Homo sapiens: one gene and its partners. The protein of the gene in region 1 purifies or fractionates together with the protein of each later gene. This does not show direct contact. Each region holds a gene or a part of one and is shown on either strand. Other genes may lie near its edges.

Region 1 (5,221 bases):
GAAGTGCCCAATAAATGTTAGTTTTTGTTCTTCAATGCATGAAACAGGCAAAGCTCAGACAAGTACTGGAGAGGCAACAGCAAATTAAAGAATTAAGTGGCCAGAAATAATTTTTTGAATCACACTGTTAACAGTGGGAAAATCTCTATAGTGGAAAAGCTGCAAAGTTTTAAAAGATTCTCTCTGAAATAGTTTTTATATATTATTTCAGAGAGGTTATATATTAAGGAGCAGAATTCTAAAATCCTGTCTTCACCTTGCTCTTTACAAAATTTCTAGTCTGGGAAAGCCAGAAATAAATCAATGAATACTGGAAGCTATTATGGGAACCAAGTAACTTCCTGAAGTGAATTACTCTAAACTTAACGAACCATTCTTCCAATCTTAGGGCTAAATGTCATCTAAAGCCAAGAGAAATTTTTACCTGATTTAGGACTTCGGAGTTTTACACTCTAAAAGAAAAAAAGAAAGGAAAAGTGAAAGAAGAATATGTATACAAATTATACAAACTCAAAGCAAAAAATGGCATTTTTGAACTTATATGTAATATAGCTGTAGAGATAATTATGAAATGTAGACCCTATTTTTCCTAATTTGTAAGTGTGCTGAATTATGAAATGGCATCTTTCACTCTTACACTGATTTTTATATCCCATGGCAATTAGTCCTAAATTGATCCCCTTCTGACTTATTTCTGTCCCACCTGAAACATTTCCCTGAAAATTTAATTAGAGGTAAGTTGCGGAAATTGAAGTTACTTCATAACATTGGAAGAGTGACTGTTCTTTCCTCTGGGAGTTGTTAAAGTAAATATATGTGCCTATTATTAATGACAATAATAATTACTAGTACATTAGAATTATAATTTAAAAGGCAGAGAATATTTGCCTATCAGCATTGCAATTGTAGGTACTTTAAAATGTTTAATTATTTTTCTGATCTCTCAAATTTTAAGAGAATTGGTTCACAGACTATACAGAAATGCATAACATTTTTAGATACACTTCTATTTTTCCTCCAGAAGCAGGACACACCTACTTTCAATAATTATTTTCTATTTAATCCACAAACCCCTCCCACCCCCATCTCTGACTTTACCATCAACCACACTATTCCAAAAGGTTTATCTTAAGTAATATGCACACCTGTCATTCTCTATAACATATTATCACAGCAAACATGATATAGCCTACCAAATGACTACAGTGAACAAGCTTCCTACTTAAGTATGAAACATTTATTTTTGCCTTAACTATCCTTCAAGAATCAGCTCAAATGTTTCCTCTTTCACTAAATCTTCCTTGATCACTTCCAACCTGGAGGCATCTCCTACACTTGAAATTCTTTATCTTTCATATGACATTGATCACATTTGCTTTGTTATAATAAATATAGGCAAAAATAAAGATTTGTACACATCCTATATCTCTACTACTAGACAAGAAGCTTCTTACAGGCAAGAATTGTGTCTTATACATCCTTTTTATCCCAACATCCTCTAGCACATTGTTCTATATTTAGTATGTGCTTAGGATTTATTGAATGATGGGTGTTAAAAATACAAGGAGTAGAACTGTAGTCTATTGAATCTAAATGAGTAGAGTCATTAAAAAATTATTGACCTTGCTTGGTCTAAGTATCACAGAGTCATCAAATTTCTTTGGTTCAGATGTTCCACCCCATTCCAGTGATGTTCCAATTTTTACCTTCACAGCTGAGGATAAGGATTTGGGAACATTTGGTGAGAATTCTCCTGGAAGAAAGTGAATATAGTTCGGTTCTTAAGAATAGTATTCTTTTAGACATCAAATGTTGCTCAGCAAATAATACATAAAACATTGAAAGGACCTGAGAAGTAATCTAGTTAATTCACACTTCATTTTATTTTTTGAGACAGGGTCTTGCTCTGTCACCCAGACTGGAGTGCAGTGGCACAATCATGGCTTACTGCAGCCCCCAACTCCTGGGCTCAAGTGATCCTCTCACCTCCACCATCCAAATAGTTGGGACTACACATGCATGCTGCTATTGCTCTGCTAAATTAAAAAAAAAAAATTAGAGATGAGGTCTCACTATGTTGCGCAGGCTAGTCTTGAACTCCTGGCCTCAATGAACTCCTCAAACTCAAGGCTCACACATCAGCTTCCCAAAGTGCTGGAATTAAAGGCATGAGCCACCATGCCCATCCCACACTTTATTTTATACTTACTGAACTGTACTCACCAGCTTCCTCAACCACAATAAATGATTCAGGTGTCCATACAGGAAGTGGAGGGGGGATTTCATCATCTATCCTTGGAGCAGTTGCTATCCAAAATGTCAAAAATATTGTAACAATTGTTAATTAGAACAATCCAAAGGAAATTCTTATATTCTAATATTAAATATAAATTTACCATAATTTATATTTAAATTCCGTTGAAGCAACATTATCAGTAAAGTTGACACTTGTTCATTCAAGGAAAAAGCAAAATAAATTCTCTTAAGGTACAAACCCAGGAGGTTTTTGCTTATTCTTTAACATTTATTGTTTTAAAAGCTCAAAAGTAGGGCTGGGCGCGGTGGCTCACGCCTGTAATCCCAGCACTTTCGGAGGCCGAGGCGGGCAGATCACAAGGTCAGGAGATCGAAACCATCCTGGCTAACGTGGTGAAACCGTGTCTCTACTAAAAACACAAAACATTAGCCGGGCGTGGTGGCGGGCCCCTGTAGTCCCAGCTACTCGGGAGGCTGAGGTGGGAGAATGGCGTGAACCCGGAAGGCAGAGCTTGCAGTGAGCCGAGATTGCACCACTGCATTCCAGCCTGGGTGGCAGCAGGACACTCCGTCTCAAAAAATAATAATAATAATAAATAAATAAAAGCTCAAAAACATTTTGATTGAGTCACGGTGTATCAGTTAACATAAAATATTATATTAATTTTGGAAGCTTTGAATTAACTTTTACATAACTCCTTTTGTTTTACATAGACTATATAATAAAACATTATAAAGTGCTTTGACGTGTAAAAGGTTCAGTTATACATTAGGTAAAATCATAAAGATTTCAGTATCTCTTCATTCTATACAAAATTCAAGAATATGGGTATTTTTCCATTTTACAAAACAACAGTATAGGATAGTCTTCTGTATTTCTATACAAACATTCAGTTTTTATTAAACATTTTAAATGGTATTACAAGAAACTGCCACCAGATGGCACATGACGATATTGTTACAATCCCTGAAAATAAGGGTATGTTTTTATTAATTAATTTTTTTTTGAGACGGAGTCTCGCTCTGTTTTTTAATGATGCAGATGCTCAGAGAAGTTTAAGGTATAAGAAAAGAAAATACATTTAAATGTTTAAAAATGTATAAAATAATCTAATCACAGAAGGAACATCTTAGATCCAGATAAGATATTTTTGCAACAAAGCTACAAATGATCTACACAACTATTTATTAAGAAACTCTACAATAAATAATGTTATAGAGCAAAAGTTTTCTCCACCTCCTATCTATGTAGAATGTGCTTTACAAATTATTTGATGATATACCTAAGGGAGTTAAACTTGTTCATTGCTTTCCCTCATCATCTTCCACATCAAATTATTGTCATCATCTCTAACAGGGTGCTCATTTCTACTTTCAAACTAATCAGTAAAACAGAACAATATGCATTATATGCAAAAATACAGAATTATAAAAGAGACAAAACATGAAAGTAAAGGTATACATATGATAAAATTTTTACACAAAATACTAAACATGTATTGTCATCTACGAGATTACTACAAAAGAGCAAGAAATCAGGTTCTCCCCTTCCAAATCCTGCAGGAAGATAATTCAATTTTTAGCAATATGTTCAACTCATTTTAGCCACATAATTGTGCAACAAAAAATCTGGGTGCTATTGATCAAATTTTTTTCTGCTCTTCCTTTGGAAGCTGCTTCTATATGTTAAGAGTAAATTCTGAAGCTAGGTGTGGTGGCTTGCACCTGTAATCCCAGCACTTTGGGAGGCCAAGGTGGGAGGATTGCTTGAGGCCAGATTTTCAAGACCAGGCTGGGCAACATAGCAAGACCCCATTTCTAAAAAAAAAAAAAATTAGCCAGGCATGGTGGCGTGTCCCTGTGGTCCCAGCTACTTGGGAGGCTGAGGTGGGAGGATTGGTTGAGCCCAGGACATCAAGGCTGCAATGAGCAATGTCCACACCACTGCACTCCAGCATGGGCAACATAGTGAGATTCTGTTTCAAAAAATATTTTTAAAAAACAGTATATTGTGAGCCTTTGATATACATTTCTAGAAATGAGGCGTGCCTTCTTTAGAAGCACTCCTGCTGGTACAGATCCTGTACCAGATCTTGATTGCCTCCATTGTTGCCTGTTTCATGGAATATTATGTTTGATGTTGCTATTTTCAACTTATTACAGCATTAAAACACTCCTGGAATGTATTTATTTGAGGAGTAGCAGGAAGAAGAAAGAGAAGGAAGCAGGCTAGGCGTGGTGGCTCATGCCTGTAATCTCAGCACTTTGGGAGGCCGAGGCAGGCAGATCACGAAGTCAAGAGATCAAGACCATCCTGGCCAACATGGTGAAACTCCATCTCTGCTAAAAATACAAAAATTAGCCGGGCGTGGTGGCGCGCGCCTGTAATCCCAGCTACTCAGGAGGCTGAGGCAGGAGAATTGCTTGAACTCTGGAGGCGGAAGTTGCATTGAGCCAAGATTGCACCACTGCACTCCAGCCTGGGTGACAGAGCGAGACTCCATCTCAAAAAAAAAAAAGAAAAAAAAGAGAAAAAAGAAAGAAAGAGAAGAAGCAGAGGAGAAGAGGGAAGAGGAGAAGAAACCAACTATTCTATAGAAACAAAATGAAATCTAAAATTCTATGCAAACTTTAAAAAATAACTTACCTAGTACAGCTGACTCCTGGTTCAATAGTGAGGAAATATTGGTTGGAGAATTCAGTGATAAAGAATCATGTGAATTGTAATAAGAGAAGAGGGATGTAGAGGATGTTGGCAACAGAGAAGAAGGAAAAACAGTTCCATCTTGCTTCTCAGGTAAATCAAGAGACATCTTAGAACTGGTACCACTTGGAGGCCATGATGAAAAATAAGGATTTTCCACTAAAGGTATGTAAGAATATACACCAAGAGCACTAGAGTCATGGTGCTTTACATTAGAGGCATTACGTATTTGGTGTTTAGAGTCATATGGCAGTGAATAAT
Region 2 (4,360 bases), about 110 Mb from region 1:
GCCATGTTTCCTCCTGACCGTACAGGGTTGAGGGTTTCTGGAAAGAGCATCCAGAGGGGAGGTGCCCTGTCCTAGGGGCTTTTGAGCTTCACTTCCTTCCCGCTTCCCTGCACCACGAGATGCTCCAGGCTTTCCTTCCCGCTTCCTGGCACGGTGAGATGCTCTGGGCTCGCCTCCGTGCCACCTGCCCCAGTGCAATAGCTGCCGCCTTTCCAGGAAGCCCTGTCTCCCGTGGCTGGAGCTGGAAGCCAGGGTCTGGGCACTGGGCGTCTTGCCCTTGTTCTCTCAGGAGCCAGAACTTGATAACATGCGTGTGTGCACCAGCCCAGTCACATCTGTGTTCTGCCAGCCCTGTTCACGTGTGTGTGCTGTGTACACGTGGGTACCGGCCTGTGCACTTGCGTGTGTGCGTGCCAGCTCCATGTACGTGCACCGCCCTGCAGCCGTGTCTTCAGGCACCTGAGTTTGGATGAGTGACTCCTTGCCGACATCTTGACTGGAATCCTGCGCCATGTGGTTTCTTTCCACCTTTTTGCTTTTTGCTCTGCCTCGTGTGTGTCTGTGTCTGTGGAGTGTGTAGAGCGTGTGGAGTGTGTGGCCCGTGTCTGTGGCATGTGGAGTGTGTGGCCCGTGTCTGTGGCGTGTGGAGCGTGTGGCCTGTGTCTGTGGCGCGTGTGGAGCGTGACCGGAGCATTCGAGGATGCACGTGTCCACGTGAGACCCACCAGGTGCCCCACCTGCCACATGGCCACCCGGGTGGCCCCGTCCCCAGCCGGTGTGTTTTGGGGACTGTGGAGCTGAGGGTGCCTCCCAGGCCCGTCCACCTCTGGGCTGCTGCGGCTGCTGAGGGAGGGGCGCGTGTGAGCGGCAGCCTGGCCTTCTTCCATGAGGATCTCTGCCCAGTGCTTCTGAGCCGTGCCTGCGGTGTGTGCACCCTCGAAGCTTGCCTGGCCCAGGTCCCAGAGGCCACACCTGCCTGACGAGGGCCTGCTTGCCACCTCATAACGTGGCCGCGGCTGCCCCTGAGCGGAGCATAGAGGCAAGGGGCCAGGGCACCCTACTCTCGGGGATGCCTCCGGCAAACGCACCAGCCGGGGTCTCAAGACCTCGCACCTCTGGAAGCCCTGCCTCCCAGTGCTGTTGCCCTGGGGGTTAAGTTTCCAACAGGTGAGCTCAGGACACGGGCGGCTGCAGCAGGGGTAGGAGCCTGTGGCTTCCACAAAGACATAATGGTGAAGCCGAGCTCTGAAGCTGGGACGGGAGTGACCTGTCCTGGGGCCTGTGGCCTCCTGACCTGGCCTGCGCTGGCCCCGTGTCCCCAGTCTGTGTCCCTATCCCCCAAGTCTGTGGTCTCTTCCATCCTTGCACACAATGTTAAGTCCCCACACGGTCTTCTTCCTAAATCTCACAACTTAAATTTATATGAAGGATTTTGTTTTGTCTTGTTTTGAGTCAGGGTCTCGGTATGCCGCCCAGGCTGGAGTGCAGTGGTGTGATCACAGTTCACTGCAACCTTCGCATTCCAGGTTCGGGAGGCCTCCCACCTCAGCCTCTTGAGTAGCTGAAACCACAGGTGCACGCCACCGCGCCTGGCGAATTTTCGTAATTGTTTTTGTAGAGGTGGGGTCTCCCTATGTTGCCCAAGCTGGTCTTGAACTTCTGGGCTTAAGTGATCCACCTGTCTTAGCCTCCCAAAGGGCTGGGATTATAGGTGTGGCCACTGCGTCCTGCCTATATGAAGGTTTTTGTGTAGCCATACCTGAAGCATCGAAAATAAAACATGGGCCGGGCCCAGTGGCCACACCTGTAATCCTAGCACGTTGGGAGGCTGAGGTGGGTGGATCATTTGAGGTCAGGAGTTTGAGACTAGCCTGCCCAACATGGTGAAACCGTATTTCTGTTAAAAATACAAAAATTAGCCAGGCGTGGTGGTGCACCCCTGTAATCCCAGCTACTCGGGAGGCTGAGGCAGTAGAATCGCTTGAACCCGGGAGGCGGAGGTTGCAGTGAGCAAAGATTGCGCCACCACACTCCAGCCTGGGTGACAGAGTGAGACTCCATCTCAAAAAATAAAATAAAACGTGAAGAGTGTGACTTTTGGAAGCTGTGGTTGGAGAGTGGGGTCTGGTGGTGATTCTGTGTGACAGAGGGGGAGGGTCCATGTGTTTCCCCGGGGAGGGGACCGTGGCATCCACCTTCCCCAGTGTCTCTGGCGTGGCCCGGCACCCCACAAGCCCCACGTCCCGGACGCTTTTCGCGTTGCCTGGTGGAGCCTGTCGCTGTTGGTGGCAGGTTCACGCAGCCATGGAGTCCTGGGCCGGCGGCATCCGTCTGGCTGTTCGGGGTCCTGGGGGCCCAGTCTGACGGCCACCTGCCCATTTGCTGTCTTGCAGGGTGGATGTGAACACTGACCGGAAGATCAGTGCCAAGGAGATGCAGCGCTGGATCATGGAGAAGACGGCCGAGCACTTCCAGGAGGCCATGGAGGAGAGCAAGACACACTTCCGCGCCGTGGACCCTGACGGGGACGGTACTGTGGCTGGGCCGGGGTGGGTGGGGCGGTGGGCGGGGCGGGCAGGGCCATGGGCCTTGCCTGGTGCCTGGAGGGCAGACAGGCCCTGTCTGAGGGACGGGCGGTGGGGAAGTGTCAGCCGGAGACCCCGAGGTGTGGTGGGGTGCACGGAAGCTGGGTTCATGATGCCAGAATCCTGGTGACAGAGGTGTGTGTGCCAAGCACTGGGCGTGGCCCATGGAGGGCGCCTCTTATGTCTTCGGGGCCTTCATCTGGTGGTGTCTATGCCTCTTGGTGGCCCCGAGGCACAGACGTTGCCGGCTGGCCTCACAGGTGAGGAAACGGGTGTGGGGTGCTGGCCGGGGCCCTGGGGCTCCAGACGCTGGCATCCTGCCGCTTCCAGCCTGGGCAGCAGAGCAAGACCCCATCTCAGTTGAGAAGGAAGTTCAGCTCAGTATCAGAGGCCCTGACAGGTGTGATCTGCTCTTCCAGGTCACGTGTCTTGGGACGAGTATAAGGTGAAGTTTTTGGCGAGTAAAGGCCATAGCGAGAAGGAGGTTGCCGACGCCATCAGGCTCAACGAGGAACTCAAAGTGGATGAGGAAAGTGAGTGCTCAGCCAGGCTCCCGCCACCGGTCTCAGGCATCCTGTGTGTGCGCGCGTGTGTTGTGTGTACATGAGTGTGCCGTGTGTGTCGTGTATGAGTGTGCCGTGCGTGTGCTCGTGAGTACGTGTGTGCGTGCCGTGTGTACGAGTGTGCTGTGCGCGTGCTCGTGAGTACGTGTGTGCATGTTGTGTGTACGTGTGCTGTGTGTGTGCTCGTGAGTACATGTGTATGCGTGTCGTGTGTACGAGTGCACTGTGCATGTGCTTGTACGTGTGTGCGTGTCGTGTGTACGAGTGCGCTGTGCGTGTGCTTGTGAGTACATCCAGGTAGCTGTTCATGTAGGCTCGTGAGTACATGCAGGTGAGTGCGCCCTCACACCCGCTGTGTGCACACGTGTTCGTCTTAACAGCATGGCCCAACCTGGTTGGTGGTGGCTGTCAGGAGGGAAGTGGGTGAAGCCGTTGCTGACCTAGGCGCCGCCCAGGAGTCCGGTGGGGAGCGTGTGAGCTGTGCCTGGGCAGCTTTCAGCTCTGCTGGTCACGGCACCTTCACGGCCGTTACTCAGTTAGGTCCTGCAGAGAATCTGAGGCTGTGAGTCTGGGTTGGGGCCTGCCCCGTACTCTGAAGGCCACGTGAGGCAGAGTTTCCTGGGGAGAGGGCACAGCCTGTGCCTGAGGGCCTGGCCCTGAGGCCTGGGTCTGCTGGAGACATCTGTGTGGCCGTCAGGTGGTCACCAGAGAGCGGTCAGGTCCCAGGGAGAGGCTCTTCCTTGGGTCTGGGGTGTGGCCGTTGGCCAGCAGGGCAGCCTCAGCCCTGGGCGGGTCCAAGCTGGTGCCTCTGCGTGAAGAGGGTGGGGCCGGGTGGGGCCCGGCACCCGGGCTAAGGCCAGGTGAGGGGAGAGCCGGGCCACCCTGCACGGGGCCAGGTCTGGGAGAGCCGTCCAGGCAGAAGCCCCTGCTGGCCCAGTTGTGAGGCACAGCTGAGCGGGTACCGTGGCGTTGCTGCCACCCTGGGGCTCCGTGTGCCCTTCCCGGTCATGCCCGTGGTCTGGTTTGGGGCTTTGAGGAGAACGTGCAGAGTCGCCTGCTCCGTCGCTGCCCGGCATCCTGGGGTGGGTTCTCTGCTGCCCTGCAGGGCGCCCGTGTCGCCCACGGGACTGGTCACGTGATACGGGGCTGCTCCTGGCAGGCTGGGTGTATCTTACACCTTTATTTTTTGTGCCTGCTTAACTTATCAGTAAC
Region 3 (4,360 bases), on another chromosome or scaffold:
GAAAGTTAGAGGACAGAACTCTTTAACCTTCCCCAGGTTCTAATAGCAATGGATGAAACTTACTTAAGGTCAAAAGAAAATGACATCAAAAGAACAAACACTAGAAGCCAAGGAAAGGTGAGAGGAAGCAAGAGATCTGCACGTGTCAGTAAGACGGACGTCAATAAGCTTCAGAGGACTACATAATAGTCCTCTGAAGTATGATCTATTACCTGGTAATAAGAGCTCCCAACAGTGGGAGAACATAGAAGGTTTTTTGGTTTTTTTTTGAAATGGAGTCTTGCTCTGTTGCCCAGGCTGGAGGCAGTGGCGCAATCTCGACTCACTGAAACCTTTGCCTCCTGGGTTCCAGCAATTCTCCCGCCTCAGCCTCCCAAGTAGCTGGGATTACAGGCATGGGCCACCACACCCAGCTAATTTTTGTATTTTTAGTAGAGATGGAGTTTTACCATGTTGGCCAGGCTGGTCTTGAACTCCTGGCCTCAAGTGATCCACCTGCCTCAGCCTCCCGAAGTGTTGGGATTACAGGCGTGAGCCACTGCGTCCGGCAAGAAGTTTTTGAGATAAATGATGTACTAGTTCTTCAGGGGTGACTTCCAGGAAAGGAGCTGCGTAAAGCCCTCACTCACCTGAGTGATTATGCGTTCTCCATCCTTATAGATCTTCTCTCCTATTACATCCACAATCTTCATTCGTTCTGACACCTGAAACAACAAATTCACAAATAAAAGGAAAAGACCTTAATTGAAAGTCACAATAGCTATGCAGCACAGAAATAGGATTAGAATAGTATGATTTGAAAACCTAACAACAGAATAGTTTTAAAAGCTTTTCCTGATCCCCATGAACAGATTCTTATTCAAGCCACTTTACCTCTAGTGATTTAAGGAGGGGCACAGACTCAATAAATGATTCAAACATCTTCCTCTTCTTTGCATTATTTTTCACTATGATTCTTCTAAAAGTCACCCGGTCCTACAAGAAAGAATATGAAAATTCTAGTAAATGCCTATATACAGGAACATCTATGGTTTAATTAACTGGCCAAAGCAAATATTAGAGGAATATGTAAGTTACTGTGTTAATTAAGTGTTTAATGATACTTCAATCTTGAGTCATCACTGGAAGTAAAGGACCTATAGCCTGAGCCAGCCAGATGCCCACATGCTGTTGCTTGCTATCTAGCACTCAATAGGTGCCACCTATGGGTCATAAATAGAACCCAAAACAGAAAACACCTAAACATTTATGAGCTCACTGTCACTGTTCAATATCAAAAAAGACACCTCTAGTGAGCCGAGATCATGTCACTGCACTCCAGCCTGGGTGACAGAGTGAGACCCTCATTTCAAAAAAAAAAAAAAAAAAAAAAAAGAGACACCTCACCAAAAGAGAGAATAAAACAATCATTTAATCCTTAGAATCCAGGATTTAAAAAAACTTAAAAAATCCAAAACAATTAGATTGTTCTTGCCTAAAAAAAGAACAATTAGATTGTTCTTACCCTAAAAAAGTTTACAATCTTAATGGGGAGATAATATAAAATATCAAAATATGAAGGTTGGCTGAATGCAGTGGCTCACTGCCTGTACTCCTAGCATTTTGGGAGGCTAAGGTGGGCAAATTGCTTGAGCCCAGGAGTATGAGACCAGCCTAGGCAACATGGTGAAACACGCTCTCTACGAAAAAATACACAAAAAAAGTTAGCTGGGCATGGTGGCACTTGTCTGTACTTGGGTGGCTGAGGTGAAAGGCTCACCAGAGCCTGAGAGGTCAAAGCTGCAGTGAGTTGTGATTGTACCACTGCATTCCAGCCTGGGCAGCAGAGTGACACTATGTCCCAAAAACAACAATATCAACAACAACAACAACAACAACAAAATACATAGGAATAAAAAGTCTACATTTCAAGGACAGGTGCAGTGGCTCACACCTGTAATCCCAGCATTCTGGGAGGCTGAGTCAGACAGATCACTTGAGCTCAGGAGTTCAAGACCAGGCTGTGCAACATGGTGAAACCCCATCTCTACAGAAAATACAAAAATTAGCTGGGCATGGTGGCGTTTGTCTAGTCCCAGCTAGTTGGGAGGCTGAGGCTGGAGAATCACTTGAGCTCAGGAGGCTAAGGTTGCAGTGAGCTGAGATTGCGCCACTGCACTCCAGCCTGGGTGACATAAGTTGAAACTGTGTCTCAAAAAAAAATAAAATAAAAATAAAAAGTCTACAGTTCAAGACAGCATATGAGCATATGAAATGTGCTTGATGAAACTACAGAAGACAAGTGCCACATAAATTTCAAGGTAAGAAGGGGAGATCACAGTAGGCAGGAGTGATCAAAGATTATTTTGCAGCAAAAATGTCTAGGACCTGAAAGAGAGGTAGGATTTAAGTTAATGGAGAGACACGGGAGGAATACGCAAGATGGAAGGCAGGCATATGAAAGATACCTTGACTCTAGCAAGTCATGGATTCCTTCTGTTTTATTTTGAGATAGGGTCCCCCAATGTTGTCCAGGCTGGCTTTGAACTCCTGGGGTCAAGTGATCTCCCCACCTCAGCCTCCCAAGTAGCTGGGACTACAGGTACACAACACTGTGCCTGGCTTAGTAAGTAATGGATTCTGATCAGAAGACAGTTAACCAAACCAGGCACTTCTCAGATATGTGTACACATGTGCAGGGAGATACATGTGAGAATGTTAATTGCTTAGTCTTAGATTCCTAAATGGGCAAGCAGTTATTTGTATCTAAGTTAACTACCTTTCTTCCACCTCAGGCTGTCAGGACTATACATATATACATTTTGTCAGAAAGTATAATAATGGGCTGGGCGCAGTGGCTCACGCCTGTAATCCCAGAACTTTGGGAGGCCGAGGCAGACGGATCGCTTGAGGTCAGGAGTTCAAGACCAGCCTGGCCAATATGGTGAAACCACATCTCTACTAAAAATACAAAAATTAGCCAGGCATGGTGGTGGGCGCCTGTAATCCCAGCTTCTTGGGACGCTGAGACAGGAGAATCACTTGAACCTGGGAGGCAGAGGTTGCAGTGAGCCGAGATCATGCCACTGCACTCCAGCCTGGGTAACAGAGCGAGACCCTGCCTCGAAAAAAACAAAAACAAAACAATATTTTAGGCTGTGTGTGGTGGTTCATGCCTGTAATCCCTGCACTTTGGGAGGCCAAGGCAGGAGGATCGCTTGAGGCTAGGAATTCAAGACCAGCCTGGGCAACACAATGAGACCTCAACTCTATTTAAAACACAAAAACAGGCTGGACGCAGTGGCTCACACCTATAATCCCAGCACTTTGGGAGGCTGAGGCGGGTGGATCACAAGGTCAGGAGATCGAGACCATCCTGGCTAACACAATGAAACCCCGTCTCTACTAAAAATACAAAAAATTAGCTGGGCATGGCGGCACGCGCCTGCAGTCCCAGCTACTAGGGAGGCTGAGACAGGAGAATCGCTTGAACCTGGGAGGTGGAGGTTGCAGTGAGCCAAGATCACACCACTGCACTCTAGCCTGGGAGACAGAGCGAGACTCCATCTCAAAAAAAAAAACAAACAAAAAAACCCCACAAAAACAGAAAACCCCAATATTTTATTTATTTATTTAAAAAAAACCCATACAGGCTGGGAACAGTGGCTCACGACTGTATTCCCAGCACTTTGGGAGGCTGAGGTGGGGAGGTGGGTGGATTGTTTGAGCCCAGAAGTTTGAGAACAGCCTGGGCAACATGGCGAAACCCATCTGTACAAAAAATACAAAAATTAGCCAGGCGTGGTGGCGTGCACTTGTGGTCCCAGTTACTGGGGAGGCAGAGGTGGGAGGATTGCTTGAGCCCTGGGAGGCGAAGTTGCAGTGAGGTGTGAGAGCACCACTGCACTCCAGCCTGGCCAACAGAGTGAGACCGTCTCAAAAGATAGATAGATAGATAGATAGATAGATAGATAGATAGATAGATAGATATAGACAGACAGAGAGACAGACAGACAGACACACACACACACATACATAGATACATAGATAGATAAAATAAAAGGCCTGGCACAGTGGCTCACACCTATAATCCCAGCATTTTGGGAGGCCAAAGTGGGTGGATCACTTGAGGTCAGGAGTTCGAGACCAGCCTGGCCAACATGGTGAAATCTCGTGTCTACTACAAATACAAAAATTAGCTGGGCATGGTGGTGTACACCTATAGTCCCAGCTACTTGGGAGGCTGAGGCATGAGAATTACTTGAACCCTGGAGGCAGAGGATGCAGTGAGCCGAGATCACACCACTATACTCCAGCCTGGGCAACAGAGACTCCGTCTCAAAATAAATAAATAAATAAATATTAAAAAATACACAGAGGG
Region 4 (4,843 bases), on another chromosome or scaffold:
CCCCAGTCCTGGTAGCGCCTATAGTCCCCTGGCATCAGCAGGTACTGCCGTCCTCGGTAGTTGGACAGCTCGTAGAGGACCCAGGAGCCCTCCAGCACGTTGAGGGAGTGGATTTCATTGAAGCGGAAGCGGTCCTGAAGACAGGAGCAGTCCTCAGTGAACTCTATCATCTGGCCTCTGTAGTCCTCTCTCTCATAGAGTCTGATCCTGTGAGAGCCAGACTGGCGGACCCAGAAATAAAAAGAGAAGAAAAGCAAGTGTGAAATGATTCCAATGCATTGTTAGGCAGTCCAGCTTGGTGAGGACCCGCTCAAGCCATTTTGAAATACATGGTAAAATTTAATTAATTCTGAATATTTATAAACTCCTCATTACCGAGCACAGAGATTCAGTACCTTTTCAAGATTATGAAGTGTGGTGAAGAAATTGAGAAGGAAATCTCACTCTTTAATATATTCAGCTATTTCTTAGGATGAGCTGCCTCCTAGGCTCAGTATCCTGTACCACATGCAAATCCAAACCTGTAACAGCTTATTACTATTTTATACCATTTTGAAGAAATGTTTTAATATTAAAATAAACATTAAATTATAAAGAAATATATTTAAATAATGTATAATTTTAATATACATATGATATCTAATACATATTTAATTATATACTATATTTAAAATATATTATAAAATGTATAAAATTATATTTTATTTAAAGTTAATCATATTTTATTTTAATAATTATATTCAAATTATATTTTATAAGTATAAATTAAAATTATATTTATTTTACAAATTATATTTTATTTTAAAATAACTTTACTAAAATATAAATAAAATATATTTAAAATACAGAAATATAAGGGGTGGGGCAGTGGCTCATGCCTGTAGTCCCAGCACCCTGGGAAGCCGAGGCAGGTGGATCACTTGAGGTCAGGAGTTCAAGACCAGCCTGACGAATATGGCGAAACCTTGTCTATACTAAAAATACAAAAATTAGCCAGGTGTGGTGGCGGGTGCCTGTAATCCCAGCTACTTGGGAAGAAAATTGCTAGGGCCCAGGAAGCAGAGGTTGCAGTGTGCCGAGATCATGCCACTGCACTCCAGCGTGGGGAACAGAGCAAGACTTCGTCAAAAAAAATAATAATAATAAATAATAAAATAAAATAAAATAAAAATAAAAATACAAAAATTAGCTGGGTGTGGTGGCGTGCTCCTGTAACTCCAGCTACTCAGGAGACTGAGAGACGAGAATCATTTGAATCCAGGAGGCGGAGGTTGCAGTGAGCCGAGATTGCACCACTGCACTCCAGCCTGGGCGTCAGAGTGAGACTCTGTTTCAAAAAACAAAAACAAAACAACAACAACAAAAATATATATATACACACATATAATGTAAATGAAATATATTAAAAATATATTAAAATATATTTAAAATATGTTAAATATATTTAAAATATAATATAATTTATGTAGTTATATAAATATATTAAATACATATTTATTAAATAAATATATTATTAAATACATTATATTCATTAAATATATTTAATGTAAATATATTTAAAATATAAAAATATGTATTTTAAATATAAGTATTTAAAATATATTAAATATATCATTTAATATATTGAATTAAATGATAATGCATCATTTAAATCAATGACATAAATAAAATATGTTAAATATATAAGCCTTCTATTCAAAATATAAGTGTTTTAAATATATTAAAATATAAATATTTAAAATATATTAAAATATAAAATGTTAAATATCTTCATATATTAAAGAACAATTAATTCTAAGTCAATAACTTGTGAATGCAATGAAGAAAAATGGAGGAAGAAACATCAGTAAGTCCAAGGACGAATTTTGCATAAACTTTAGTGTTCTAACACACATATGGGATAAAAGGGACACATGTGTAAAATATGTGTGTTGCTCTCCTTTGAAGGAAAGTCTTACTTATATAGGTTGGGAAAACCCAAAATATGCAAGAGAGGAGCAAAAACGGGAAAAAGTCTCAAAAGAAATTACCCTGTTTGCTCAGTAACTGCTGTACGCTCTAGCATTTATTCTTCTATTGGGTATTAGTGGTTTTTCTACAACTCCATTCTAAATGATTCCAGAATAGGACTTAAGTCTTATACAACCCCTAGGGCAGGAGACACATTCCTACTCAATACATATTTGTGGATTAATTGTGATTAACTGGTGTCTGGGTAATACTTTGCTTATGTGGGGAGCAAACTCTATTGACTTAATCCACTATAGTTCATCTTTTGTCCACTCTCAGTTATTGTGACTGATCACTACTTCTAATGTTTAACTTTTGCTTGAAACCATCCAGTGAGTGTCCTGAGGGCCTGGGTCCTGACTTGAGGATGTACTCACGTGGGGGATGAGGCGGCAGGAGCGGACCGAGTCGCTGAGGCCCATCCACTGCTGGTGGTCGGCATAGTCGCCGCGGCGCAGGAAGTACTGGAGGCCCGAGTAGTTGGGCTGCTCATAGAGCATCCAGCAGCCGCTGTCCACGCGCGCCGAGTTGCAGCGGCTCAAGTAGGGCTGCAGGTTGGGGTGGTCGCTGCTGCATTCATAGTGGCGGCCCTGGAAGCCCCGGTCCTCGTAGAGGGTGATCTGCAAGGCAAGGCGGGACAAGGCGAGGTCTCACAGGCCTGCTCCTGCCCCAGTCTCTGGCCCCCGCGATGGAGGAAGCTCCGGGGTCCCGGGGCGCAGGCTGGGCTCACCTTCCCCATGGCTGGCTGGGCGCACGGCGGTGCTGAGCTGGTGGGGCGGCGGCGCTGAGCGGGTGGGGCTGCGGCGCGGCGGGCTATATAGCAGGAGGGCTGCTGCGTTGGCAAGAACCGCACAAAAGGGGCCCCCGGAGGGGAGCAAGGGCATTTTCGTGTTCTCTTTTTTTCTCTTTGCTGTGCTAGACCACGGGGCTTGTTGTGGGTTTTGGTCGCATTCTCTCTGGAGTATTCGGATTGCTATCACTGGCTGATGCTATTGAGAATGTTTGTAAAACGGCAATTTGGGACATTGTCTATTTATAATGGAAGTGGAGCTTCAGCTATTTCACATATAGTTCACGCTTTTATTCGTATAGATTGGGGAAAAACAAAAAAAATTTAAGTCGGGGAGCAAAAAAAGCAACGACTCTTAATAAGGCAAATATAAATTAATCTGTCAGAACTACAGTATTACTTACGTGCCACAATATTGAATACTGATTGTTAATAGGAAGGAAATGGGCTTAACTGAATGTTGAAAATTTCAAGTTAGTCCTTTAAGAGAACGTCATCATGAAAGGGTGTAAGAAATTGGAACATTTTATTAAGAGAGTTCACAGAATTTCGAACTTTTATTATGGTAAAACACACAGCAAACGTGAATCTTCAATATTGGGTCTGATTTTGTTGCAATTATGCCTGGAAGTAGCTGAGAATTAGATGTTTTTCTCTTAGCTAAAGGTGGTGCCGTGATTCAAAAGAGAGAATAGTTCTAAGATGCTTAATCTCAGAAAGAACTAAAAAGGGAAATATCTAAGTTTGAGGAAATTAGAAAAAGTAATATGTTTGAAACACAAAAACATGATCTCTTAGCTTGTTATAAAATAAAACCAAATTCCTAAGAAACTTATTTCTGGTAGGATCTAGAATACACCTTTGCCCTCTGAACGAGCGAGAGTACACAAGGCCTTTGACTCAGACGAAATTAATTGCATGAACACAAAGGGGAGCTATGGCTGGAATGATGCAGGGAGAGGAAGGAATAAAAATCTAGAAGTTGGACTCGAGGAAGACTTCAGAAAGTACTTATTGGCCTGGAAGAGAGCAGTTTGATGGACTGGGAAGAGTACTGGAGTGGAATATGACCTATGTGTCCAGCTTCTTTCATGTTCAAAGAATTGCTTACAGCCCTGTGTCAACCCATGGAAGTACTTTGTCTTGTCTTTGAGTCATAAATCTTTGTAAGTGGTATTTATGAATTAAACACCAACTATGTGCAATACAAATTATTTTAATTCTTATTTTCTGGCTGCTTTTTTTTTTTTGTATTCTTTCTATATAGAGCTCTACGGTGGTAGGGAAATACCTTTTTCTTTTGTTTTGTTTTGATTGTTTTCTTCATCCCCATTGCTACATATAGCAGGCGTATGGTAGGTGCTCAAAAATTGGTAAGGATCCTAACTCAAGGAAGTTAAGAGTCTCTAGTGGCTAATAATTGGAGGCTATTGAAATGGAAAATAAACTTGTGGCTGGGTGTGGTGGCTCACACCTGTAATCCCAGCACTTTCGGAGGCCAAGGTGGGAGGGTCACTTGAGCCCAGGAGTTCGAGACCAGCCCTGGCAACATAGTGAGACCCCTTCTCTACAAAAAAGTGAAAAAATTAGTCAGGCATGGTGGTGCGCGCCTGTAGCCCCAGCTACTTAGGAGGCTGAGATGGGAGGATCGCTTGAGCCTGTGAGGTCGAGGCTGCAGTGAGCTGGGTTTGTGCCACTGCACTCCATCCTGGACAACAGAGTGTGACCATGTCTCAAAAAATAAATAAATAAAATAAAATAAACTTGCACTATGAGCCGGTAGTCTCACTTCTAGGTCGCTATCTTTTTAAAATTATGGCATGTCAGGATTAGCGTATATGTACAATGTTATTCTTTGCAGCATTGTTGGTAAAAGCAACATTGGAAAAGCCCAGTCACTTAAGTGGACAAATGGTGAAATGGTCTAAGGGACCTCCAAACAATGGGATGCAATTCAACCATCAAACAGAATAAGATACTGACCTAGATATATGTCCATATTATAATACATTTTAAAAGCAAGTTGCAGACTAATATGTATAG

The links. Proteins that work in one complex are often made in the same cells at the same time.
Region 2: the proteins of PTPN22 (region 1) and SDF4 purify together in Homo sapiens (affinity purification with mass spectrometry, with the first as the bait; one large-scale study listed by BioGRID). This does not show direct contact.
Region 3: the proteins of PTPN22 (region 1) and PRKAR2A purify together in Homo sapiens (affinity purification with mass spectrometry, with the first as the bait; one large-scale study listed by BioGRID). This does not show direct contact.
Region 4: the proteins of PTPN22 (region 1) and CRYGD purify together in Homo sapiens (affinity purification with mass spectrometry; one large-scale study listed by BioGRID and IntAct). This does not show direct contact.

What each region holds. Positions count from the first base shown.
Region 1 is NC_000001.11:113,832,687-113,837,907, forward strand, and holds part of PTPN22 (tyrosine-protein phosphatase non-receptor type 22), read right to left. Parts: coding exon 4,904-5,221; intron 2,308-4,903; coding exon 2,224-2,307; intron 1,754-2,223; coding exon 1,623-1,753; intron 453-1,622; coding exon 425-452; intron 1-424. UniProt on the Homo sapiens protein: Acts as a negative regulator of T-cell receptor (TCR) signaling by direct dephosphorylation of the Src family kinases LCK and FYN, ITAMs of the TCRz/CD3 complex, as well as ZAP70, VAV, VCP and other key signaling molecules.
Region 2 is NC_000001.11:1,222,002-1,226,361, reverse strand, and holds part of SDF4 (45 kDa calcium-binding protein isoform 2 precursor), read left to right. Parts: intron 1-2,393; coding exon 2,394-2,530; intron 2,531-3,004; coding exon 3,005-3,118; intron 3,119-4,360. UniProt on the Homo sapiens protein: May regulate calcium-dependent activities in the endoplasmic reticulum lumen or post-ER compartment. Isoform 5 may be involved in the exocytosis of zymogens by pancreatic acini.
Region 3 is NC_000003.12:48,764,375-48,768,734, forward strand, and holds part of PRKAR2A (cAMP-dependent protein kinase type II-alpha regulatory subunit), read right to left. Parts: intron 976-4,360; coding exon 874-975; intron 705-873; coding exon 630-704; intron 1-629. UniProt on the Homo sapiens protein: Regulatory subunit of the cAMP-dependent protein kinases involved in cAMP signaling in cells. Type II regulatory chains mediate membrane association by binding to anchoring proteins, including the MAP2 kinase.
Region 4 is NC_000002.12:208,121,725-208,126,567, forward strand, and holds the start of CRYGD (gamma-crystallin D), read right to left. Parts: upstream 2,801-4,843; 5' UTR 2,750-2,800; coding exon 2,741-2,749; intron 2,631-2,740; coding exon 2,388-2,630; intron 222-2,387; coding exon 1-221. UniProt on the Homo sapiens protein: Crystallins are the dominant structural components of the vertebrate eye lens.